Linked DNA regions of Homo sapiens. The protein of the gene in region 1 purifies or fractionates together with the protein of each later gene. This does not show direct contact. Each region holds a gene or a part of one and is shown in the gene's direction. Other genes may lie near its edges.

The links.
Region 2: the proteins of PRKCE (region 1) and CPVL purify together in Homo sapiens (affinity purification with mass spectrometry; one large-scale study listed by BioGRID and IntAct). This does not show direct contact.
Region 3: the proteins of PRKCE (region 1) and CAD purify together in Homo sapiens (affinity purification with mass spectrometry; one large-scale study listed by BioGRID and IntAct). This does not show direct contact.
Region 4: the proteins of PRKCE (region 1) and KCNC4 purify together in Homo sapiens (affinity purification with western blotting; one study listed by BioGRID). This does not show direct contact.
Region 5: the proteins of PRKCE (region 1) and NTMT1 purify together in Homo sapiens (affinity purification with mass spectrometry; one large-scale study listed by BioGRID and IntAct). This does not show direct contact.
Region 6: the proteins of PRKCE (region 1) and MAPKAP1 purify together in Homo sapiens (co-immunoprecipitation; one study listed by IntAct). This does not show direct contact.
Region 7: the proteins of PRKCE (region 1) and PSAT1 purify together in Homo sapiens (affinity purification with mass spectrometry; one large-scale study listed by BioGRID and IntAct). This does not show direct contact.

Annotation. Positions count from the first base shown.
Region 1 is NC_000002.12:45,658,175-45,661,674, forward strand, and holds part of PRKCE (protein kinase C epsilon type), read left to right. Parts: intron 1-3,500.
Region 2 is NC_000007.14:29,000,038-29,003,537, reverse strand, and holds part of CPVL (probable serine carboxypeptidase CPVL isoform b precursor), read left to right. Parts: intron 1-2,153; exon of another isoform or gene 2,154-2,209; intron 2,210-2,482; exon of another isoform or gene 2,483-2,569; intron 2,570-3,500. UniProt on the Homo sapiens protein: May be involved in the digestion of phagocytosed particles in the lysosome, participation in an inflammatory protease cascade, and trimming of peptides for antigen presentation.
Region 3 is NC_000002.12:27,241,369-27,244,443, forward strand, and holds the end of CAD (multifunctional protein CAD), read left to right. Parts: coding exon 1-28; intron 29-542; coding exon 543-755; intron 756-933; coding exon 934-1,059; intron 1,060-1,251; coding exon 1,252-1,407; intron 1,408-1,503; coding exon 1,504-1,605; intron 1,606-1,829; coding exon 1,830-1,924; intron 1,925-2,047; coding exon 2,048-2,150; 3' UTR 2,151-2,575; downstream 2,576-3,075. UniProt on the Homo sapiens protein: Multifunctional protein that encodes the first 3 enzymatic activities of the de novo pyrimidine pathway: carbamoylphosphate synthetase (CPSase; EC 6.3.5.5), aspartate transcarbamylase (ATCase; EC 2.1.3.2) and dihydroorotase (DHOase; EC 3.5.2.3).
Region 4 is NC_000001.11:110,227,314-110,230,813, forward strand, and holds part of KCNC4 (voltage-gated potassium channel KCNC4), read left to right. Parts: intron 1-1,219; coding exon of another isoform or gene 1,220-1,386; exon of another isoform or gene 1,387-1,485; intron 1,486-3,500. UniProt on the Homo sapiens protein: Voltage-gated potassium channel that opens in response to the voltage difference across the membrane, forming a potassium-selective channel through which potassium ions pass in accordance with their electrochemical gradient.
Region 5 is NC_000009.12:129,625,024-129,628,962, forward strand, and holds the start of NTMT1 (N-terminal Xaa-Pro-Lys N-methyltransferase 1), read left to right. Parts: upstream 1-1,139; 5' UTR 1,140-1,272; exon of another isoform or gene 1,273-3,692; intron 3,693-3,939. UniProt on the Homo sapiens protein: Distributive alpha-N-methyltransferase that methylates the N-terminus of target proteins containing the N-terminal motif [Ala/Gly/Pro/Ser]-Pro-Lys when the initiator Met is cleaved.
Region 6 is NC_000009.12:125,700,709-125,704,208, reverse strand, and holds part of MAPKAP1 (target of rapamycin complex 2 subunit MAPKAP1), read left to right. Parts: intron 1-3,500. UniProt on the Homo sapiens protein: Component of the mechanistic target of rapamycin complex 2 (mTORC2), which transduces signals from growth factors to pathways involved in proliferation, cytoskeletal organization, lipogenesis and anabolic output.
Region 7 is NC_000009.12:78,314,125-78,317,624, forward strand, and holds part of PSAT1 (phosphoserine aminotransferase), read left to right. Parts: intron 1-3,500. UniProt on the Homo sapiens protein: Involved in L-serine biosynthesis via the phosphorylated pathway, a three-step pathway converting the glycolytic intermediate 3-phospho-D-glycerate into L-serine.

The DNA of each region.
Region 1 (3,500 bases):
ATTATTTCCCCAGCAGCCAAGGGTCCCTGGATCTCCCTTTCCCCTACTCCCATAATACCATGTAATCCAATATTGCTCTCATTGGTCCATAGCTGGTTGTTTAACAACTACCCAAAGGATTCATTCTTGGCCCAGTGCTATCACAGACAACCTCTTGGCATTGGGTCCCTAGAGTTAAGGACCTGAGTTAGCCTTCAACTTCATGGACAGTCAAGCGTTGTTTGAACTGTTTCTTCTTCTTAGTGTCTTTGACCAGCAGCAGATTTAGTGAATATTTGAGACCCTGAATTCCCTGGCTCCTCAATGGACCGCTCTCCCTGGATTCAGTGAGTTCTAACTGGAAGGCATCTCCACCACTCACTAGTTGTGTGACTTTGAGCATGTGACTTAGGCTTTTTAAGCCCGTTTCTTCATCTGTAAAATGGAAATGTCGTAGGTCTTGACTTTCAGAGTTGCTATGAGAATTAAATAAGGAACTATAAAGCTTGTAGCAAGTGGTCTGGCTATAATACATTTCAGCAATTTTATTAATATTTGAAGAGTCATTTGTGTGTTCATAGTTTTAGAATCTTAAATCAGAACATATGGTCCAGTGAAATATATTTTTCTCCTTGATTTGTGAATGTATTTATATGAAAAGTCTTACATACTCTAAAAATAAATTTGACTTAGTTATACTTAACAAATTGCCCTTTGGAAGATAATAGAATTACTTGAAATGAGATTGTTCTGGAAAGTCTAGAAGCTGCGGTCATTGTAGACAAAGGTTAATTATTTATTGAAGAGGTATGGGTAATTGGAAATGAGGATATTTGGGAGCTGGTGTTTTGGTTTTACTGTGCCAATGTCATCTAGTTTCATGGATTTAAATACACTTTCAGTGCTGTTGACACTAAATTCCTAATTCCAGCTCATGCCTGACCCTGAACTCTAGACTTTATATATGGGATTGCCTTCAGGTCCTCAGCTTTCATTGTGTAAAGGGCATCTTAAACTCCATATGCCTAATATTGTATACCTATTTTCCCCTCTCCTCAATCTAAGCCCTTCTTCCTCAGCTTAAGAAATGGCAACTCCATCCTTCCAATTACCCAGCCAAAAACCTTGAGGGGCCATCCTTGACGCCTGTAATTCTCAGGTGCCCCATATCTTATCCATCAGCAACATCTGCTCTTTCTGCCTTCAAAATATATCTCAGATCACATCCTTTCCATACCTTTGCTGACCTCACTTGGGTCCAAGTCACTATTATCTCACACCTGGATTATTTCAACAGCCTCTGAATTGCTTCCACCTGTCCTGGCTTCTCAGCTCCTGTCTCTGCTCACAGATCTCTCAGGTGAGATTATCCCTTACCATAATTTACAAGACCAACAAAGTCAGGCCTTCTGCTGTGACCTCTCTGACCCTATCACTTGCCACTCTTCTCCCTGTTCATTCCTCTCTAGCTATCCTGACCCACTTGACACCCCTTAAATGCACTTACCATGCTCCTGCCTCAGTCTTTACCCTTGCCATCCCATTTTTTTAGAATGCCCTTTTCCCAGATATCCACATGGCTCAAGTCTTCGCTCAGATGTTATGTTCTCAGTAAGGCCTTTTCTGGCAATCCTATCTAAAAGTTCACCCTCTTATTTTATGCTTCATATGCGCCTTTCCTGCCTTTTTTTTTTTTTACTCTTTACTCTTACCTCTATCTGATACGCTATTTAGTTTTCTTATTTATCTTTGTTGTTTATTTCTAATACCAGAACACCAGACGCTCTATAAATGTAGAGCTTTTTGTTCACCGCTTTATCTCAGCACCCAAAACAGTGCCTGGCACTTTGTTGAATGAATGAATAAATTGTTGAATGAATGAATAAATTTCTTGGCACATTGTTGAATGAATGAATGAATGAATGAACACAAAACAAGTGTGTATTTCTATAGTACCTACTATGGTCTAGCACTGTTGGTAGATATGGGGTTTGGTAACACAAAAGTTGTGTATGTGTAGTTCCTGCCTCTGAGGAGCATGGCATCTCGATAGAAACCAGTTGAATGAATTTCTTAAACAATCCTTCTGTACAGTTGAAAGAAGTGAGGAGGAGGAGGAAGGAGAAAAGGATATTTTATTTTATAAAAATCTATGAGATCCCTGAAGATGTTCTTATGAGAGAATGCTATATTATTTCCACATAGCAATTTGCATCAAGCTGAAGAATCTCCGTCAAGTCTGAATTTCCCAAAAGTAGGAATTTTCTACCCTCTGAGTGCCCAGGGCCCATTCCAGGTGCCATGGTGAGGGAAGAAGAAAAAGGCCCACTTGTCCTCCATTTGCAGAGTTTAAATGAAGTTCAAATTCTCATCAGGGCTTTAGATACAAAACCCTTTGTAGTTGGCAGCAACAAGAAACGAAATTTCAAATTCCGGCGCCTGAACTCATAGAGCTATTGAAGCATGTTCAGACAAAGCTTCCAGGGGTTTCACTTAGGCTAAAATAACTCCAGAGCAGGCCTGCAATATTTTACATAAATAAAAGCTACACTTGGCAAAACATTATATTTCTCTCCAAGTTCCTCTGGGTATATATGGGCTTGTTAGTAATTACAATCTATTATAATGCTAATCAGCATGGTTGCACCTGTTTGAGATTTAGTTTTCTGTCAGAAACCATGTGAAGTGGCCAAAAGTCTGTACTGTGCTGGGAGAACCAGGAGGACAGGAACATACAATTCATCGTAACTCACTGACATCTAAACAAAATTGAAACTCCAGAGGAAATATAACTGAAATCTGTAATACTGTGCTGGGGAAGAGGAGGAAAAACAGAAGCCTATCATGAAACCCAGATGCTGAAATGAGGATCTCCTCTCTCCTCATCCCTGACCTCTACCCCACCTTGAAGTCTCAAAGAGGTAGTTTTATGTTAGTGAAAAGTCACCTGTATTTGCCAGCAAGGAGTAGACTCACTGAGCTCCTGACCCCAAGAGATAGATAAGACTAAAAATGTAATCAAGCTTAAGAAGAGTTTTTTAAAATTTGAGATGGAGTCTTGCTCTGTTGCCCAGGCTGGAGTGCAGTGGCATGATATCGGATCACTGCAACCTCTGCCTCCCGGGTTCAAGCGATTCTCCTGTCTCAGCCTCCCAAGTAGCTGGGATTACAAGCATGAGCCACCACACCCGACTAATTTCTGTATTTTTAGTAGAAACAGGGTTTCACCATGTTGGCCAGGGTGGTCTTAAACTCCTGACCTTAAGTGATCCACCCGCCTCAGCCTCCCAAAATTCTGGGATTATATAAGAGAAGTGAGCCACTGCGCCTGGCTTCAAGAAGAGTTTTTTTTGTTTTGTTTTGTTTTTTGTTTTTTGTTTTTTTTTTTTTTTTTAGAAGGAGTCTCGCTCTGTCGCCCAGGCTGGAGTGCAATGGTGCCATCTTTACTCACTGCAAGCTCCGCCTCCCGGGTTCACACCATTCTTCTGCCTCAGCCTCCCGAGTAGCTGGGACTACAGGTG
Region 2 (3,500 bases), on another chromosome or scaffold:
TTCATTCTCCTCTGCATTTTCATGTTTCCATTACGGATAATTTTCCTTCTGTCTGAAGAACAGTCTTTCGTACTTCTTTTAGTGCAGGTCTGCTGACAAAAACCTTTTCCAATTTTTTGTTTCCTTGAAAATATCTTTACAAGGTCTTCATTTCTATACAAGTTCTAGGTTGGCAGATATTTTATTTAAGAACTTTCAAGATATTATTTCACTGTCTTCCAGCTTTCATTGTTTCTGTTGAATAGTCAGTTTTCTTGCTGCTTTGAAGGTACTGAAAGTACTGTTTCCTTTTCTGTGACAGCTTTTAAGATTTTCTCTGTCTTTGCTTTTAGCAAAATGCTATTCTCTCTGTGTGTGTGTGTGTGTGTGTGTGTGTGTGTGTGCACATACACATACTATAGTGTAATATACTATTACTAATATACTATTATGTGTACTATGATGTGGTTAGTTTGCTTTGTGTTTATTCTATCTAGGATTCATAGAGCTTCTCAAAACTGGCTTGGTAACTTTTGTCAATTTTGGAAATTTTTCAGTCAGTATCTCTGAATGTTACTATTTGTTTCTTTTGCCCCATTTCTTCCTTATCATTTTATCCTAAAATTCCAGTTAAACATAAGTTAAATGTTTCATGGTTTCATGTCGTCTTCTTCTTCTTTTTTTTTTTTTTTGAATTTTCATACCTTTATTCTCCATGCTTCAGTCTGGATATCCTCTACTGACCTAACTTCCAGTTCATATAGTGTTTCTTCTGCATGCCTAATCTATTGCTAAAACATCGATCGAGTTCTTAATTTCAATGAACAATGAATGAGTAACTTTTTAGTTAAAGAACTTCCATTTGATTCTCTTGTATATATTCTAATTATCTTGTGAATTATTTTTCTATACCTAACATCTTGCATATTTTGTTCACAGTTACTTTAAAATGTGTACCTGGTAACTCTAATATCTGGATCATTTGTGGTCTCTGTTATCTTTTTTTCTCCTTAAATTTTAGTCATTGCTCTTGTTCTTTGTCATGCCTATTAAATTTTATTAAATGTTGAAGAAAATGTACAAAAAATATATGAAGAAAAATGTTATTTTTCTTCCAAAAGGATTTAATTTTTTCTAGAAGGCATACAGAGTAGAGGCATATCACCTTGATAAAGTTTGGGATTGAGACGATTGATTCAGTGCTTGATTTCAAGGTTTGTGAGGACTAACCTGTTTCTGGTTTGTTATTACTTCCAAGGCATTGTCTTTCACGGATCTGATGGAAAGCCTGCAGTGCTTACCAGTGCTGTCCCTCCTTGACAGGCTTGCAACTCCAATTTTTTGTTGTTGTTGTTTCTTTTGGGGTTTTCTTTGTTTTTGTTTTTTGGTCTCTCAAGCACCGTAAGACTAATGAGCTTTTCATTCTCTTATCTGCCGCTTTTGACTTGGCGTCTTGGTCAGAGAAGCTTAAAAATTGGTGAATTTCCCAAAGGGAAAAGCAGCACAAAATGTTAGGCTCACTTCCTTGTGATTCCCTTTTCTCTACGATCATGGCCTCTCTCAAGGCTTGGTTGCTCTCTGATACCTTTAAACAGCTTATTTTCTTTTTAATTCAGCTTCTATTGTTTTCTGTGGAATAAGATTGGTTTGGTACATGCTATTGTGTCACAGTCAGAAGTGGAAGTCCTAAATTACAAACAGTATTGTTGCAACTGATTAAGATGGTGTACATAGGAAGCCCCTTGGGGATGTTGTAAAGGAGCACCAAAAGTTTTAACTGCTCTAGAATATGTACCATTATGATGGCTACATGTGGGTCTCCTGAAGCACCTAGAAGCTCCTTTTCTCATTCTATTCAATAACCATTTGCTACACCAGAGGTGTACAGTGGGAGACCTCAAGAATCGTTTCCCTGAGTGCTGTTGAAGCAACTCCCAGCCTTGATCTCTGCTGTTTTTTCATTCTTTCGAAAGTGACTTATTGCATTCTTTGTTAGGAAGTGTCTGCTAACAAGCTTTGGCTTGTTTTTTATTCTCGTTCCCAAGTACCTTTTCAATATATTTTTATTTGAATGCTATTTACGTTATTTCTACTTATAGTTAGTGTCTGAAAGCAAACTAAAAGATAAGATTTAGTAAATGTGGAATGGCATAAAAGTAGTGAAAAGAACTTACATGTAAATCAGAAACCACAACAAGCAGATTCTCTTGAGGGTATGCATCTTTCTATACTGGAAAGCAGAAACAATAAACCAATCCTACATATTCTGCCTGCCAAACTTGCAGCTCCCATGTGGCTCTTTTCTCTTTCCTGGTGAGTAGCACCACCTTTGCAAATCTGCCCATGTCAGAAGCCTGAAATGGGGAGGATTTGTTGGGGATGGGTAGAGAAAGTCTCACTTAACCTTTATATCGGATTAATCACTGATTTTATTGGTTCCATCTTACTACCCTCTTCTCCTTCCCCTTCTCCCCATCCCTCCCATGAGCCCACATCCTCTCACCTGATTTGGTAGTCTCCTAATTTGCCTCCTTGTACCAGTATGACTCCCTTCCAAATTAGCCTTCTCCTTAGACATTAAGTCATTTTTCTACAATGCAAACATAAGCATGTCACTACCCTACTTAAAACCCTCTAGGATATATCCAGAATAGGCAAGTCTATAGAGACAGAAAGCAGATTAATGGTTGCCAGGGGCTGATGGGGAGAGGGGGAGTGGGAAGTGATTACTGATGTATATGGGTTTCCTTTGGGGTGGTGAAAATATTCTGCAACAAGATAGTGTGAATATACTAAATGCTACCGAATCATACGCTTTAAAATGGTTAAAGTGGTAATTTTATGTTAAGTGTATTTTACCACAGTTGCTTTTAAAGCCCGATAGGATAAGGTCCACTCATCCCAGCATGTCACTTGGGGCATCACATGGTCCCACTAGCGTTTGCCTGTTCATCTGTCTCTTCTGTTTCCCTCTATTCCTGCATGAATGGGACGACATACAGACTGCTGCATGCGCCCGCAGCTTCACGGCCCCTGCATTTCCACACAGAATTTCCTTTGTCTGCGGTGATCCCTCTGCTGCACGTGCCCACAGTTTCATGCCCCTGCATTTCCATGCCTCCTGCATTTCCACGCCTCCTGCATTTCCACACACAGTTTCCTCTGTCTGCGGTGATCCCTCCACCCCCACCCCACCCACCCACCACTCTCCGTCCAGTGATCTCCTTCAAGACCCCCAAGAAGCTTCCCCTGACACATCTACATCAACAAGCCCACTGTGAACTTCCCTCTCTTTTCTGTCATCTAAACAGGCACAACTGGGAAACCTTTACTGGCAGGTCTTTGTTTCTAGTTCCAGGGAGAATTATATTGTTTTCTAAAAAATAAAGTGGAATGAAGCTTTAAAGTGTTTGTATAACCCTGTTGAAATTCATGACACATTTGTGACCCCCTGGAACATCTGGAACACATGAAGTTAGAGGCTGCAGCTCTAGTGTGGAGGCACCCAAAATAGACAGTTC
Region 3 (3,075 bases), about 18 Mb from region 1:
GAAGGAGCGGAGCCTCGACATCCTGAAGGTCAGGATCAGGGCCGGGGGTAGGGTCCAGGCCATCGCCTGCCCTTGGGCCGCATCAGCGCAGGGCCGCGCAGTGGTCAGAGTGGGTCTTCCTCCCCCTGCCATCCCGTCCCCTTATGCTAGTCCATCCCTCTGCTGCTGTAGATCTTCCCCCACGTTTTCCCTCCCCAAAGCAGGATTTAGCTGGCTGGGGAGGCCCTGAGCATGAGACCATCGCCCCACTAGTGGGGTCTTCTGGTCTGGGCTGCTGCAATCATGGGAGAGAGCTAGGGTGTGTCCTCCTTTCCCAGCTCGTTCAGACACTTAATGATGGGTGGTTTTCTGGAGGCAGAGCCTTTAGCTCAGAGTGACACCAGTGGTGGAAACGTCAAGGCTCTGACAGGTCACAGGGGAGGTTTGGGTGCAGAAGGGTCCTCACAGCACCCCTCAAGTGTCAGTTGGGGTGGTGGTGCCTAGCTGGGGTTTCCCCAGGGTGGACACGCATACGTACACCTTCCATCTTGCTCTTTCCCTAGGGGAAGGTCATGGCCTCCATGTTCTATGAAGTGAGCACACGGACCAGCAGCTCCTTTGCAGCAGCCATGGCCCGGCTGGGAGGTGCTGTGCTCAGCTTCTCGGAAGCCACATCGTCCGTCCAGAAGGGCGAATCCCTGGCTGACTCCGTGCAGACCATGAGCTGCTATGCCGACGTCGTCGTGCTCCGGCACCCCCAGCCTGGAGCAGTGGAGGTGAGGCCAGCCTGGGTACTGAGATGGGGTTAAGAAGGCTGGACCCAGGGGCATGAGAACCCTTCTGCCCACGTTTTCTGTGTTTTGGGCCAGATGAGTGAGGGGACCCCAGAAGAGGGGGACTGGCAGTTGGGGGGCCTCTGAGCTGCAAAAGACAGGATTTTCCCCTTTTTTCCAGCTGGCCGCCAAGCACTGCCGGAGGCCAGTGATCAATGCTGGGGATGGGGTCGGAGAGCACCCCACCCAGGCCCTGCTGGACATCTTCACCATCCGTGAGGAGCTGGGAACTGTCAATGGCATGACGGTGAGGGTGGTGGCAGGGTTTGGATCCCTGCCAGGGGACGATCTAGAGAGGGAGGCAGGAAGTGGTTACCCCGGTACAGGACAGCTGCATCAAGGAGGCCTTCATTCTGCTCCAGAGGCTTTTAAAAGCTTGGAAATGATGTCGGGGGGCACTCAGTCTGGGATCCCTGTGGTGACTGGATTCCTCTCCTAGATCACGATGGTGGGTGACCTGAAGCACGGACGCACAGTACATTCCCTGGCCTGCCTGCTCACCCAGTATCGTGTCAGCCTGCGCTACGTGGCACCTCCCAGCCTGCGCATGCCACCCACTGTGCGGGCCTTCGTGGCCTCCCGCGGCACCAAGCAGGTGAGACCCTCACAGCCCTGCCTGGAAGCCATGGAGATGTGGGTTGGGCAGTCAGAGCCCAGCGCTGCATCCACCATGGCTCTCCTCACCCTCCAGGAGGAATTCGAGAGCATTGAGGAGGCGCTGCCTGACACTGATGTGCTCTACATGACTCGAATCCAGAAGGAACGATTTGGCTCTACCCAGGAGTACGAAGCTGTGAGTGCTGGGCTTGAGGAAGAAGCCAGGGCTGCTGCCGTAGGGCATCAGATATGAGGACAGAAAGGCTGGGCTGAGGGCTGGGTCAGAGCTGTTAAACTTCACATCTGTCAATTGCCATAGCTGCATGTGGGTGTGGAGGGGACCCCAGTGGAGCCCAGACTTGTGTCCTCTGTAGCCACTCCTACCCCAAGGCACTAATGGGGACCCCATCTGCTTTGCAGTGCTTTGGTCAGTTCATCCTCACTCCCCACATCATGACCCGGGCCAAGAAGAAGATGGTGGTGATGCACCCGATGCCCCGTGTCAACGAGATAAGGTGGTGCAGCATCAGAGTCAGAGACTGCCTCGGGGCTGGTGGACGGGAGGAGACTTAGTCCTGGACAAGCCATCCATGGGCTGCACGATAACACTTCCTTTTTTTTTTTTTTTTTTTTTGCAGCGTGGAAGTGGACTCGGATCCCCGCGCAGCCTACTTCCGCCAGGCTGAGAACGGCATGTACATCCGCATGGCTCTGTTAGCCACCGTGCTGGGCCGTTTCTAGGGCCTGGCTTCCTCAGCCTCTTCTCTTTAGGCCCAGCTGCTGGGCAAGGAATTCCAGTGCCTCCTACGGGGGCAGCACACTTAGATATTCCTGGACATCCAGATAGCTCACATGTGCTGACCACACTTCAGGCTCTGGACTGGAGCTCTCTGGCATGGGGGTGGGGCCTCAGATGCTGGGGCCCAGTCTGCCCCATCTTCATTCCTGCACCTTAAACCTGTACAGTCATTTTTCTACTGACTTAATAAACAGCCGAGCTGTCCCTTGATGCTGAGTGTAGTAGAACAGAGCTTTCTTTTAGAAAATTGAGCAGATTCCCAAATTATAAGAGCAGCCTCACCAGGCAGGGCTCTGGCTAGGGCTGCGTGCCCACACTCGGCATTTTCACACTCGTGACTCTTTGGGACTCGGCAGGAGCGTGTTAACTCTGTGCTCTCTGAGTCCTGTGTCGTGCTGATGCCAGCGCTTACCTGGGGGCTCTGGCTGGTGTCCAGCCCTCCTTCCTCAATTCAGTTGACTCAAAGACCTGACAGAGAGTTCTGCCCTCTTCCTGACACTGGGAGAACACTCATCAGGGTAAAAGGAAGGCTGAGCACTGCGGCCTGTCTGAGGCCAGGCCTGGACTCTTCCTCACTCTTTCTGGTTAGTCCTCCTCCAGTGGCTAAGGCTGCCATTGCATTCTCAAAACCACCCTGGAGTTCTTCAGCCACTGTCACTATTAGGAGCCCCTCCTATTTCCCATCCCTGGGAGCCTCTGCCTGACATTGGACAGAGGGGCAGATGCCATGGAGGGCTGAGGAGCACTTTGGCTTGGAGACCCCAGGGCAGCAGCCTAAGGGCAGTAGCTTATGTGTCTGTGGGTGAGGGCTTCTGAGGAGCAGCTGTGCCCTCCAGTGAACTTGAGTAGCATTGGAGAAATCTCATT
Region 4 (3,500 bases), on another chromosome or scaffold:
CACCTTCTAGTTTCTTTCCCAGACCTTTCAGTACCACTCTCCCCATGGAAGCCCCAGGCCACCCTGAGCCTAACCAGCCCCTGAAAGGTGTGTGTCCAGCTTTGTTGGGCATGTGTTCTGTGGACTGGCAGAAATGGGAATAGTGATCTGGTGCCTAGAAGGAAGTGGTCCAGCAACCCCAGCAAAAGGCAGCAGATGGAGGGTGCTCAGACCTCTACCCTCGCCTGTGTTCCTTTGTTCACCCCCGTGTCCTATCCTTGGGCCTGGATTTGGCCTTCTCTCCCGCCGACCATCCCAAACAGGCAGTGGCTTCCACTGTGTCCTTGTTCAGGCCCAAAGCCTTGCTCTGGCTGGACCGTGCTAAGCAGACAGTCTAGAACGAGTGGTCCCTGTGTAGGACTCGAGCACACAGAGCTGAGTGCCACGCATCCCTGCTTTCCTCCCTGGGCTGTGAGGGGCTCAGTGGAAATAGGTGTGGAAGAGGCCGTGAGGGTACCAGTCAGGAGGGACCACGAGGTACTGGGAGTGGACTGCACCTGGGGAAGGAGTTTCACCGGCACGTGCACGGGGCAGGAGAGCCAGCATCTCACCATCCAGTATCCCTGGGGTGCCTGTGGGGCCTGTCTGCTCTGTTTTCAAGATGCCTCCACACTGCTTCTTGGCAACAGGCATGTAGCTCAGCCAATTAGAGTGACCTTCGAGAGGGAACAGGTGGGTTGCTGGGAAACAGGCCCTGCTAAGCAAGCGTGGCAGTTAACATTGCCAAACTCCCAATGCACACTCGGCAACTTTCTCCACGCCGTACCGTGCCGCACTTCTCCACACTCAGGTTATGCTTAAGACCAGGAGTGAGTGGGTCTGGGCCTCCTCCACACAGGCCCATGTATCAGAGTGTCAGTTCCCTGGGAGGATGGTGGCAGGTGCTAATTAGGGCTTCTTAGAGTCAAGAAGGCTGATGCTGGAGGCTGTGGGGTCTTTGTCTAGCTGGGCTATCAAGGAGCTGGTGGGAAGCTTACCTGGGGGCAGGACAGGACAAAAGTCAGCTGGGTGTGGGGCCCTGGAGTCTGTCCTCAGGAGCCCAGGAGACCTGAGGCCAGGGAGAGTCAAGGAGGGCCAGGCCCCTCCACACCAGCCCAGGGCCACCCGCCCTGCAGTGTCTCCTGGAGCGTGGACCCTGTGGAGCTGCGCCCACTGACCCATGTGCCTTTTCTTCACCAAGGCTGTGGAAAGTCCCGGAGTCTAAACAACATAGTTGGAGCAGCTGGAACCAGCCTGGGGCTGTCTCCACTGGCATCGCGTTACAGCTTGCCCTACCCTCTGAAAAAGTTCCTGCTCACCCCCTTCCACCCCCTCACCGGCCCACCCCCTGGTCACTCTGCCCCTTAGCTGCACCTTCCCCTCTGGGCACACGCGCACAAACAGGCACCCTTCCATGCCCTCAGCGCTCACTCCCCAGGGCCCACGCGGGCAGCAGGAGGGAGCAGGGGGGAGCAGTCAGGACAGAGGAGAACTTAGGCCCCCGAGCCTGCCCTCCATAGCTCCAAGCTTCCCAAAAGGTTCAGCTCTGGAACCGGAGAGCAAAGGGGAAAGCAATCCCAGAGCTTCTCCCCATATTGGCCTCTTCCTGGGCTGTAGGTGCACACCCCGGACCTGTCTTTCGGCCTTGCCTTCCTCTCGGGGTCCCACCAGGGCCAGTCTCAGCCACCAGGCGTTTATGTGTGCACAGAGCGCCTGGGGCCAGTCAGCCTTGTTGGGGAGCCACGCCTATGTTAATATCTTTAATCACTGTGAATGTATTTCCATTCCTCATAGCCTTTAACCAGTAGCCGAACAGCCTGTCTGTCTGTCTGTCTGTCCACCCCACACCCAGACCAGCAAGGAACAAGGCTGTTATGTCGGGCATCTCTGCTGGTGTAAAGGTGGTTTGACTCCTTGGAAGAGCAGTGCCTATGGGCAGTGCTGCCCTGGGAGAAGAGGCCTGATGTTTTCTATCCCTGGCTTGGGGCGCAGGTAGGGGTCCCTAGCGTTGTAGCTTCAGGCTTGGTGCAGGCCGTGGGCGGGCTGCCTAGGCGAGGGAGGCCCTTCCCTCAGGAAGCCTCTGCCCAGATTCAGTGGTGACTCCCACTGGCGGCACCTGGTGTCCCTTCTGCGCCCCGAGCTGCAGCATCGCTCTCCACGCTGCTTCCTCTGCTTCTGCGACAGTTCTTCTTCCCTCTCCCTCTCCCTCAAACTCCCAGCCCTGCCTCTGAGTCACCTGCCATTCCCACCCAGCCTCTGCGCTCTGTATTCCTGCCAGAACCGGAGACTCATCTAATTTCTATAATTAAGTGTATTCATTTACCTAACGAGCCCAGGAGCACAACAGGTTTGTGAGTCACTGGGTGAGCAGGGGTACACCTTGCGCAGGGGCAGCTGAGGGGAAGTGTGGGGACAGAAGCCATCTTGCCCCCACCTGCTCCTGCCGCTCCCGGGAAGGGGGCCCTCCACAGCCTGAGGAACAAGGTTGCCTCAGCCAAGACGTTTCCTCTTTCACCTGATGGGAATTAGACCTGACAGCAGAGCCGTGCGCCTGGCAATTTTTAGAGTCAGATTATGCAATTTTGCGGAGAGAATGACTAAGTAAGGTCCAGATCTGCTCCTTCCATGGTCAGCAAAGATAGGATGGCAGGGCAGCGTCGGGGCTGGGCAGAGGCTGGGAAATCTGAGGCTCCCCAAAAGGCGGACTGGGCAGAGCAAATTATTGCATGGGGTTGGGGGTGTTGTGTAAAGCCTGTGCCCGGAGTGTCCCCATCTCGGCACCTCCCTCAGTCTTGGGCAGACACAGAAATGTCCTTCTGGAAAGGTCTGTTCAGAGTGGGCACTGGGATACCCCCACCCTGCAGTGGTTTGTGGGGCCTGCCTCCCACTTGCTCTCAGAATGAAGTGACCTGACCCATAAGAAGTGAGAAGAGGGGATGTGGGGGCCTCCATGCAACTGCCCTTCAGGAGGGAGCAGGCCCTTGAAGTGACAGGGATGGGGAAGCCTGTGGAACAGGATGGAGATGCGAGGGCCCCTCCCCCAACAGCGAGAGGACTCCCTGGCATGGAGGGCCTGGGCTCTGACAGGGACACAACGAGCCGGGTGTGCAGGTTCACAGGGATGCCACCACTGTTTTCTCCTCTGACTTGCCTTTCTGGTTCAGGGAACCGAGGCCGCTATTTCTGTGGCAGCCCTCAAGTTGTCAGGAGCCCAAGTTTCCACGGCACCCACCGCCTCCTTCCCTCTCTTCCCTCCCACAGGGCTGGGTCTGGCTCATGGCACCCCTACGGTGGGCACAGATGTCCCTGGGCGACAAGATGCAGCATTGCCAGGCTGGAGCCCTAATGCCTCGGGGAGCTGGCTCCCACACATCCCTCCTGGCTCTCTGGCTTCATCTGGGAGAGATAGAACCCAGATAGCAGGAGGGCTGAGTAGACTGTCTGCCCTTACAACCTCTCAGCACCTCTGGGCCTGCCCAGGG
Region 5 (3,939 bases), on another chromosome or scaffold:
TGAGCTGAAGGTCTGACGTGCAATGTCCCACAAGTTTAACCCTCTCAGAGCATCAGAAGTTGAGTAATTATTACGTTGCTCAACTTCCTCTTCTGACAGGAGACTGAAGCTCGGAAATGTTAACAGGCTCTACCCACCTGCAAGCTCCCGTTTCCATCACCGCTGCCTCGGAGATAGCTCCAGAATTTCTTTGCATGGGAGGAGCCTAGGGAAGGGCCACGCTTTTGGAATGGAAACGTCATGGGCTTGTTTTGCTCATTTCAGTGGGAATCCCATGGCACTGCCGAGAGTATTTCTTTTTATTTTATTTATTTTGGGGGGTCGGTATTATTTTAAGATGCTAATGGAGATGGGTGGATTTGAGGACCAATGGCTTTTTTTTCCCTTTTTACTCAAAGCCCGCACAACACACTCGTTTTTAGAAGTCCAGCCTGCAGCCTCCAAACGAACTGTTGTACGTGCTGGGGACGGGGAGAGGGCGACGCTGCGGCTCTTTTCCGTTCGGGAGGTCCTTCTAGATTCCCAAAAGTCAATTTAGTCAAGTTTTGAGCTGTAACCTGTGTTGGGCGCGGTGGCTCACGCATGTAATCCCAGCAGTCTGGAAGGCCGAGGTGGAAGCCTCGCTTGAGGCCAGGAGTTCAAGATCAGCCTGAGCAACAGGGTGAGACCCCGTCTCTAATTTTTTTTTTTTAAAGAAGTCAAATTAGGCCAGGTGCGGTGGCTCACGCCTATAATCCCAACACTTCGGAAGGCAGAGGCGGGCGGATCACTTGAAGTCAGGAGTTCGAGACCAGCCTGGCCAACATGGTGAAAACCCGTCTCTACTAAAAATACAAAAATTAGCTGGGTGTGGTAGCTCACGCCTGTAGTCCCAGGTACTCTGGAGGCTGACGCAGGAGAATCGCTGGAACCTGGGAGGCAGAGGTTGCGGTGAGCCGAGATCGCGCCACTGCACTCCAGCCTGCTTGACAGAGCAAGATTCTATCTCAAAAAAAAAAAAAAAAAAATTTAAATTATTTTTCAAAAGAAGTTAAGTTAAATCCGGAGCCCGCGCGGGGGAGGGGCGAGCTGAGCGAGGGGGTGGAGCCAGCCATGGGCCCGCCCCTAAACGCCCGGAAGTGACGTTGGCGGACAAAGGCAGCGCGCGCCGCGAGCTGTCGCGTCTGGTCGTGGTCTGGCGGAGCTGCGGTTGGCTTGTGGCGTCTCCGCCGCCGCCGCCCTCCCTTCCTCTTCCCCATCTTCTTCTCTCGGTCCCGGGAGCCCCCGCCCGGAGTGAGTAGCGCGAGGCGGTGCGAAGGGTAGGCAGCCGCTGGGAGAGGGGAGGCTGCGACCCCTAACTGTTTCGGCGCCCTGAGGTCCCGGGTCCCCGGCTCGTCACGTGACCCGGCGCGTGCGCGCGGGCCGGCACAGGCCTCACGTGCGCGTCCCCAAGAGGTCTACGGGCCGGACCTGGGCAGGGACTACGGAGCAGTCCATGGGTCGGGGTACAGGAGGAAAGTCAAGGCACTCAAAGCCCAGGCAGGGCACTCCCCCACCCCGGTCCCCAGACCGCAGCAAATCCCTTTCTCTGAGCCTGTTTCCCTTCCGAGAAACAGGGATATGGAGAGCGCCCACTTGGAGGATGGATGGGAGGAATCGGTAAAATCGGTAAAATGCCCAGTTCAGAGCCTGGCACAGTTAAGTGCCCGCTGCACAGAAGTTGCTGTCGTATTTAACCTTGGGTGCCACCCGAGCGCCAGCCCGACACAGGTGCAGCTCAAAAAAGACAGCCCGAGAGCCCTTGCGGCCAAGGTCAGCCTGTCTGCAGGGAGGCTGCCATATCGAAAAGCCCAGACTTTGCTGCGCACCAACTGTGTGATCTCTCCCTCTGGACTTTGGTTTCTCCTCTGTACTATAAGTGATTGCCACAACTGGTGTCAGAGGCCCTGACAGCGGGGAGGGACAGTGTAACCGGTGGTTGTGGTGTGTAGAATGATTGCCCAGTGAGATGGGATGAGCCTCTGGGAGGAACCAGGGCTGGTATAAGGAGCCTGGATTCCCTCCTTAATTCTGTTCTCGGCTTCCTGTTTGTATGTTTAAAGACACGTCACTTCCTTTAGTGTGCTGGTTTTTCTCTATGTAAACTGAGGACTGTGCGGGGGTTGGAAGGATGCATGGAGCGTTTTGGTGGAGGCCGGAAGCCCTAGGATCACAAGGATGGCATCTAAAAAATCTCGGTGGGGGTTCTGTGCTTATAGGCAGAGGAAGCTCACTCCCCACTCTGGCTGATTTGCAGAGCTGTTTGAGTCTGCTGGCTTGGCCGCCCAGCATACCAGTAACAGTCCCCTAGGTGTGTCCAATACAGCTTCTGTGGCATTCTAAGGCAGTTTTCCCATTTGATCCTCATAGTGGGCAGAGTTGACAAGAATCTCATTTGACAGAGATTTCTAAGCTCAAGAGAGAATATGTGCCCGGCACTGTGCAAAGCACTTTAAGCTTTTCATATGCACTTTTAATCACAGCCTTTCTGTAAAGTCGGTATTACTGTTCCATTTTATAGGTGAACTGAGGAATGGTGAGGTTTAATGTCTTGTCTGTGCTTACACAGCAGGTGTGCAGAGCCAAGATTCAGATCTGGTTCATCTGGCTCCATCAGAGCCTTTGTTAGTTTTTAAATGTATCCCCTGTTTTGTCTTCTTCCCTCCCTTTCTCACTTCCTTCTTTTTCTTAGAGCACTCTGCCGTTTGCATGTGGCCTGCTGCTGTCCACAAAGATCCAGGGAGGATGGACTCTGTCCACTAGGCTGCTAGAGGGTGGAGGTAACTTTTAGGCAGGCTTTTCCGTAGAGACTTACGTGAGGAGGATGAGATGACTGCAAAAGTCTGCCGGTGACAGTTTCAGCACTGTTTTCTTCCATGGGTCGTGGGAGAAGAGATGCAGTACCTTGGGTCTGAACACCTTGGCGGGGAGGAGGAGGCAGCAGCCAGGTGACTGTGAAGGATGTAGGATCACATTTACTGGCTGAGCAGCCATTTACCAGGCATGAGGGGTTTGTCTTCCTCTCTGAGCTAGCCTAGAGTGCACACAAAGCCCGTGTGCTCCTGGCCCCCTCCCAGGCCCTTCAGCCACATACGGCATCTGTGCTCTGGAGCAGAGTGTAGCAGGACCACCTGCTGTTGGCTGACTGACCTTGCTGTTCCCTCAGACTCTTAGGGACCTCCTCCTGCCCCACTCCAATCTGGACACCACGAGGCAAAATGTAGCCAGGACCCCAGGAATCCCGTTTATTAATGAATCAGCTGTTAGGGCAGATGTCAAAGTCAGGCTTGCTATTTCCCGGCCAGGATGTGCCTCCCCTGGCTTGTTCCCAGAATTTGCGTGTAAGTGGAATTCTTGTAAATTAGATTATTCAGGGGACCCTGACATTTAAAGGAATCATGTTACAAGGCTTTTGGTAAAGCACAGAATTATATTGTCGGTAGCAGCCTTCAGGCCTTCAGTATTTACCAGTTCTGAATGGTTGGACTTTTGTCTGTAGGATTTTCTTAGAGTGGAAAATGGCTATAGCTGCACAAAGCCCATTCTTGCATTATTTGGCAACCAGTTAGTCAATGCCCACCTGGTATCAGGCACTGGGCTAATGGTGTACAAGGTAATGTCTCTACCCCCAGGAAGCTGCATGCTGGGAGAGGAGACGGATGGAGTCCAGCCTGGTATGTGTTTGCCCCCAGATTTATTCTGTTCATTTGATCAGAGGTGAACTTTCTGTTGAATATTTGTGTTTCATGGGATGCAAGAGAAGCATGGTGATAAATCTCAAATGTTGCCACTGCTCTCAGGAGCTCCCCGGCCAGGCGAGAGAGAGAACTGAATACAAAACCTTCAGTTTGCCAAGTTGGGCGGTGAGAGGGAGACAGGCTTGCTCTCGCCATGGTCCAGTCTGAATGGGAGTTGTGCCAG
Region 6 (3,500 bases), on another chromosome or scaffold:
TTATCTGCTGAACACTGAGATCGGCACTCTTCATTACTACACCATGTTGCTTGTTCTTTGTGATGTGGATGCGGACCCTCTGGAAAGGCTTCAGAGAGAAACTTGCCCTTGAGCTGTAGCTTCAGTGTGCCAGTCATTGTGAGACAGGAGGGATCACGAGGAATGGAAGTGGCCTTTGCACTAAAGGAGCTCATAGCCTTATCTGTTACTTTAAATGTTTTTCTTTTTTGGTGGGGGAGCTTGTTTTGCTTATTGACTTATACCTGAAGACTTCAGAAACTTTTGCAGTTGAGTGGATTTATATGATTCAGCCTAAGATAATTTGCTGGCAATCTGTTATTCTGATGTATAGGCCTTACTGTTACGGACGCAGTTGTAGATGTCAAATTATTATATGACAAGGACTTCTGTCACGTTACTTGTTTTTTTTTTTTTTTTTGAGACAGTCTTGCTCTATCACCCAGGGTGGAGTGCAGTGGCATGATCTTGGCTGACTGCAACCTCTGCCTCCTGGGTTCAAGAGATTCTCTTGCCTCAGCCTCCCAAGTAGCTGGGACTATAGGCAGGTGCCACCACGCCTGGCCAATTTTTGTGTTTTTAGTAGAAACGGGGTTTTGCTGTGTTGGCCAGGCTGGTCTCAAACTCCTGACCTCAAGTGATCTGCCTGCCTCGGGCTCTCAAAGTGCTGGGATTACAGGCGTGAGCCACCATTCGTGGCCACATTACGTTTTTTCCCTATGGGAGGTGCCCTGACTTGTTTCTGTGAGTTCGAAGTTTTTGTGAAGTTTTTTGACTCAGAAGTCAGCATATTTCAGCTTGTGTTAAATTTAAGAGGCTTAGTGGTTAAATATGTTACTTAAGAGTCACAGAGCTAATGTGTGATAGAGCCACAAAAAACTGGCCAAAAAAGAGTAAACAAATCTTCATTAAATTATTATTATTGTTCTGTTTGAGCATCTTCCTCAGTGGTCTCCAAGTCCGATGCCTGTTATGTACTAGGATGAGTAGGCTGGGCCTTGATGAACTGGAGAGCACGGGCCCAAACTAAAGGGAGCAGTTGCTGCTCAGCTCCACTTGCTTGTTGCCATGTGAGGAAGTGGGCCCAGTGTCCTTGGATCTTTTGACACTTTTTGGAAAAGATGCTGGAAATCTGGATTTTAATTTATTCTTATTTATTTATTTAACTTTTAGAGACAGGGTATCGTCCTATCAGGCTAGAGTGCAGTTTCGTGGTAATAGCTCACTACAGCCTTGAATTCTGGGCTCAAGTGATCCTCCCACCTCTGCCTCCCCAATAGCTAGGACTACAGGCGCATGCCACTATGTGTAGCTAGTTTTTTTTTTTTTTCTTTTTTTGAGACAAAGTCTCGCTCTTGTTGCCCAGGCTGGAGTGCAGTGGCATGACCTTGGCTCACTGCAATGTCCGCCTCCCGGGTTCAAGCGATTCTCTTGCCTCAGCCTCCTGAGTAGCTGGGACTACAGGTGCCCATCACCACGCCCAGCTAATTTTTGTATTTTTAGTAGAGACAGGGTTTTGCCGTGTTGGCCAGGCTGGTCTTGAACTCTTGACCTCAAGTGATCCGCCTGCTTCAGGCTCTCAAAGTGCTGGGATTACAGGGGTGAGCCATTGCATCCGGCCATGTACTAGCTAGTTGTTGCTTTTATTTTTTTTGTGGGAAGGAGTTTCGCTCTTGTTGCCCAGGCTGGAGTGCAATGGCGCGATCTTGACTCACTGCAACCTCCACCTCCTGGGTTCAAGCAATTCTCCTGCCTCAGCCTCCTGAGTAGCTGGGATTACAGGTATGCGCCACCACGCCTGGCTAATTTTGTATTTTTAGTAGAGGCGGGGTTTCTGCATGTTGGTCAGGCTGGTCTCGAACTCCCGACCTCAGGTGATCCACCTGCCTTGGCCTCCCAAAGTGCTGGGACTACAGGCGTGAGCCACTGCGCCCGGCCTAATTTTTAAAAAAATTTTGTAGAGATGGTGTCTATCTATGTTGCCTAGGCTGGTCTTGAACTCCTGCCTTCAAATGATACTCCTGCCATGGCCTCCCAAATTGTTGGGATTACAGGTGTGAGCCACTGCATGTCGTGGATTTTAATGTATTTAGTTTAAAAATTTGCCATTAAAAATTATGTTGATCAAAACATATTTGTGGGCTGAGTGTAATTCTAGGCTGCCTGATTGTGAACTCCAACCTACCTGGCTGCTGAAATTTTGGTACCTGTTGTTCAGAGCAGGAAGTATACAATACAATGTTTTGATTATTGATTAGAAATCTCATGGTAAATTGCCAGTGTGAGGGGGCATTGTAGCTTGCGCTGATAGTTTTGGAGAGTGGCAAGGTCAATGCTTTTATTGTATAATCAAGCTAAAGTATAGATCTGGCTGGTGAGATGACCTTATAACACTTCTATTTTGTGCTCTTAGCACTTTAAATGCTACCAGATTTCTTGTCTCTTGGCCCTCTCCACAATAGTATGAAGTGGTATGGTAAATTTGTTAAATGCTCTTGTATACCTTATTTTCTTTAGTCTTCATAGTCCTATGAGATAGGTAGTATTACAAAGGGGGTAATCATCACCTCTTGAGATGAAGAAATCGGCACCCAGTGAATCACAGTTTAGTGGAAAGAGCAGTTGACTAGAGAGGGTGTTGCATCCTGAATATGCGGATACCACTAACAGCCAGTGAATCACAGTTTAGTAGCAAGTGCAGTTGACTAGAGAGTGATTTGCATCCTGAATATGCGGATACCGCTAACAGCCTTTGGAGTTTGGTCACGTCACTTACAAATCCTCGGATCTTTTTTCCTTTTTGGATAAATAATGAGGAGTAAAATTCAAGTCTTGCTGAAATTCAATTCGTAATATCCTATACTTGAGTATACTTTTACTAATATACTTTTATTACTGATGCAAAGTATACTGAATGTGTAAAACTTCAAAAAAATAACATTTTCCAGTTCCCTGCGGACTCATTTTAAGGTACTGTGTTACAAATAAGTACCATTTCAGCAGAGAAATTGGTAGAAAATTGAAGGAATGGTTTTCTTTTCGGGATGCCAAGCTTTCTGTTTCTAATTGATATGCTTAAAGTCACACAACTGATTACTGGCAGACTCCAGTGGAGATGACTCAAATCTAAAATGCTGCCCCTCCTCTCTTGCTGGCAGGTCAGGAACCACTACTCAGCTCTTCATCTGTTCTTTATTCATTACTTCCTCTGGGAAAGGCCCTTGATGGGCCAGGTGCTCCCCCAGTGCATGCAGTGCCTATTGACTATATGTACTCAAGATTGAAAGGGGGCGTAGAGACACCCAGCACAGTGAGAGAAATATGGTCAGGGAGTTCCCAGCCCAAGAGTTTAATTTATTTTTATTTTAATACCCAGCTTTCACAAGGTGAAAATTGAAGAAATACTGGTCTTGTAGATACTTGTTTTCATTCATACTCTATTGTATAAGGAAATAACAGAATATAAAAATAAAGGGAATAAA
Region 7 (3,500 bases), on another chromosome or scaffold:
TAAGCTGTGTAAGCGTTTTAGAGCCCTTGTGTTTTCAAGATTTTAGACGGTATGGGAGTTGAAACATGAGTTAATAAAGAACTGGAAGCCACGAGGGTCCTGTGTTAAGTAGAGCCACAGGGGCTAGACATCAGTGCTCTGCAGAGGGCTGGGTGGGAGGGGAGGCAGGACCTCCTATCCTGTGTTAAGTAGAGTCACAGGGGCTAGACATCAGTGCTCTGCAGAGGGCTGGGTGGGAGGGGAGGCAGGACCTCTTATCCTGTGTTAAGTAGAGCCACAGGGGCTAGACATCAGTGCTCTGCAGAGGGCTGGGTGGGAGGGGAGGCAGGACCTCCTATCTTGTGTTAAGTAGAGTCACAGGGGCTAGACATCAGTGCTCTGCAGAGGGCTGGGTGGGAGGGGAGGCAGGACCTCCTATCCCAGGGATGTCTTCAGTCTTCAGGACAGCTTGCTTGCTTCTGAGTTGTCTGCCTCTTGTTTAGGCTTCATAGAGCCAAGTTATGGGTGCTGGCTCCAGGCAGCCCCTAAAAGTGGGTGAGCTTTCTGCTGGCCTTGCCTCCTCAGATCCCATTAAGAAAGCCAGAGATCATGGGCGGCGAGTGTGAGCACAGCAGTCAGCTAGGGGTTCAGGCGTCGGTACTGAGGTCTGGCTAGGACGGTGGACCTGACATGGGCCTTGCTGCACTTTGGATTTAGACAAACCAAATCCACAGTGCAGCAAGGGCCCATGTCAGCTTTGAAACCCTGGGCTAACACAGAGCTTCAGGCAAAAGGGAAGCTTGGTCACCTGGAAGTATTGTTGGTGACCTGGGCTCTGCTTGGATTCAATCACATGGCAGGGTGTGTTTCTGTGGTTCTGTGTGGAGGTGGGGGGTGAACAGGCTGCAGGTGTGGGAGAGGAGCAGTTGGAAGTGAAGTGGGAATTGCAGAGCATCTGATGAACAGAGGGCTGGGCAGCCTCGTGTCTGGAATGCACACCCACGTGCATGTGTGCTGTGTGCTGGACTTGGCCACTGTCACTGGTGTGTGGTGATAGCTCTGCAGTCCCACTCGCAGGGGAGCTAGTGGCTGGAGCCCTGCAGCCCCTGGCAAAGCAGAGGGCCTGCATACTTGTGGGAAGAGCTTGCATTCTTGGAGTCAGACAGGCTAGAGTTGGAGTCCTGGCTTTAAGCTGCTTGCCAGATGACTTGAGGCAAAGTTAACCTCTCTGAGCCTCAGTTTCCTCATCTGGAAAATGGGATGACGGTGGCTCTAACCCGAGGATTATTGTGATCAATAAAGATAGGCTGAGGCCACAGTAGACTTCAGGAAGTACTCATTCCCTTCTCTTACTTTCTCTCTTCTGTCTCTTTTGTCCCTCTGACTTCTTGGACGTTAGCCAGAGAGCTACCGCTGAGGCTGTGGATATTCTCAGGGGCTGTTTCCTCTTCCTCCCTGCCTTCCCTTTCTGCCAGCAGCCACTCTTGCTCTTTCTTCCCAGTGCTGTCTGGGGAGGTAGGCTGGGGAAGCTTCAGGAGAGGTTGTTGGATGTTTGTGGCTGCTGGCTGCTCCCTGCCTAAGGCCCCTCTGGGCAGCCCGGTGTTGGCTTTTGCCAACATGAGCTGGCATGAGCCACTGCACCCAGGCCTTGGGTCCCACTTGAGACAGTGAATGAGCCAGTTGGTATAGGGGGCTTCCCTGTGACAAGCTGCTGGCTGTTAGAGCATTTTCCAGACCCCATAATGTCCCCTCCTGTTAATAAAGGAGGAAGCAGCTGGGTATCCCCACCCTAGATCTTAGCTGAGCATTGACTCCCAGTAAATTTTTGCACAATTCCCATAGGGGATCTTTGATTCACACCTCTGGAGAGGGCATAGTTGGCAGCTGACCTCCAGACTCCCAGCTCAAGGGAGATGGTGTCTTCCCTGGGCGACCTCTCCTCCTGTGCCCTGAGCTTTTACTGAGTACACGTGGAGCCTTTAGCACCTTCTTAAGGAGAGGGGTTTTCAGACTGGGGAAAACCATGCACCGCTCCTCAGTGTTTCATATTTTCAGCTTAAGTTTGAAGGGACTACTGACTGCCATTTGTGTGGCCCACCTGCCACGTGCCAGGCCCTGTGCTAAGCGTTGGTCTGGCAGGAAGAAGTTGAAATACTTGGTTCAGAAAGGGATGGTCCTGAGCTGCGGGAAGGGCCCAGGTGCAGCTGGACTTCCTGGAACCAGGGACACAAATCCTCCTCCATCTGCTCTCCACTTCTGATCCTGGCTTCTCTCAGCGGGAATGTTGGCTTCATTTTCAGATGGGCCTTCTTCAGATGTTTCCTAGAAACATGATCCCCTAGGGCTCTCATCTCCTGTCTCACAGTTGCACTAATATTCTGCCGCTTTTTCTGCTCTCCCCACTCTTTCTCCCCACACCCAATTCAGAAAATCTCAGGGAAGGCCCTGATTGGCCCAGTTAGGTCCTATGCCGAACTCTGAGACCAGGGAGCCAAGGGGCCTTGCTGGACCTGCATACTGGCTGGAGGGTGGAGTTGGGAAGAGCAGGGTGGATAAAATGCCAGGTGTCCACCACAGGTAGGTGGATCTCCCGGTTCCAGATGGGAAAACCGAGGTGACTAATTCTGGGTAGTCTGTTAGTGAGTGGCTGCCCTACAATGGGAGTCAGGACTGGGAGGGGGAGCCCGTCCTTTTAACCCCTCGGCCACAGTGCTCTCTGCTGGCTGGAAGGCACTGTGCTAAGGATGTGGGTAGAAAAGATGAACAGCGTGGGCTTCTAGCCTTCCAAGACCACAGAGGCCAAACAACAGGCACACAGAAACTTAAAAGAGCAAGTGGAAAAAAACTATGCAGGTAATATGGGCAAGGCGCTCTGGGAGTTCAGGAAGTGAAGAGCTCGCTCTGGGTAGGGGTGGGATTGGGGTCTGCTGATGCCTTCTGGTGGAGATAAGGAAGTGTGTTCTGGCTCTCAAGAAGAGTTTACATTAGGGCTTAAGCTGGACAAGGAGGGACTGATATGATGTTTAGTGAAAAATCTGATTAAACCTTTTTCTGAATGGCCCTCAGGGATCTAGAATTGGGTTGACCCTAGTCCTTGCTTGATGACATGCTCTTGTTCACATGGGCCCTGCTTTTGTCTTGTGTATTTTCTTTCTTTATTTTTTTTGGAGACAGGATCTCGCTCTGTCACCCAGGCTAGAGTGCATTGGTGTGATCATAGCTCACTGCAGCCTCGAACCCCTGGGCTCAAGCATTCCTCCCTGCTCTGCCTCCCAAGTAGCTGGGACTATAGGCACATGCTATCACACCCAACTAATTTTTCAATTTTTATGGAGACGGGTCTTGCTATGTTGCCTAGGCTGCTTTCCAACTCCTGGCTTCAAGCGATCCTTCGGCCTCGGCCTTCCAAAGTGTTGGGATTACGGGCGTGAGCCACTGCATTTGACTATCTTGTCTATTTCAAATAATGTGTTTAAGTCTGTTTTAATGCACCTTCAACAGCAGTTTGCTTGAATATAGTT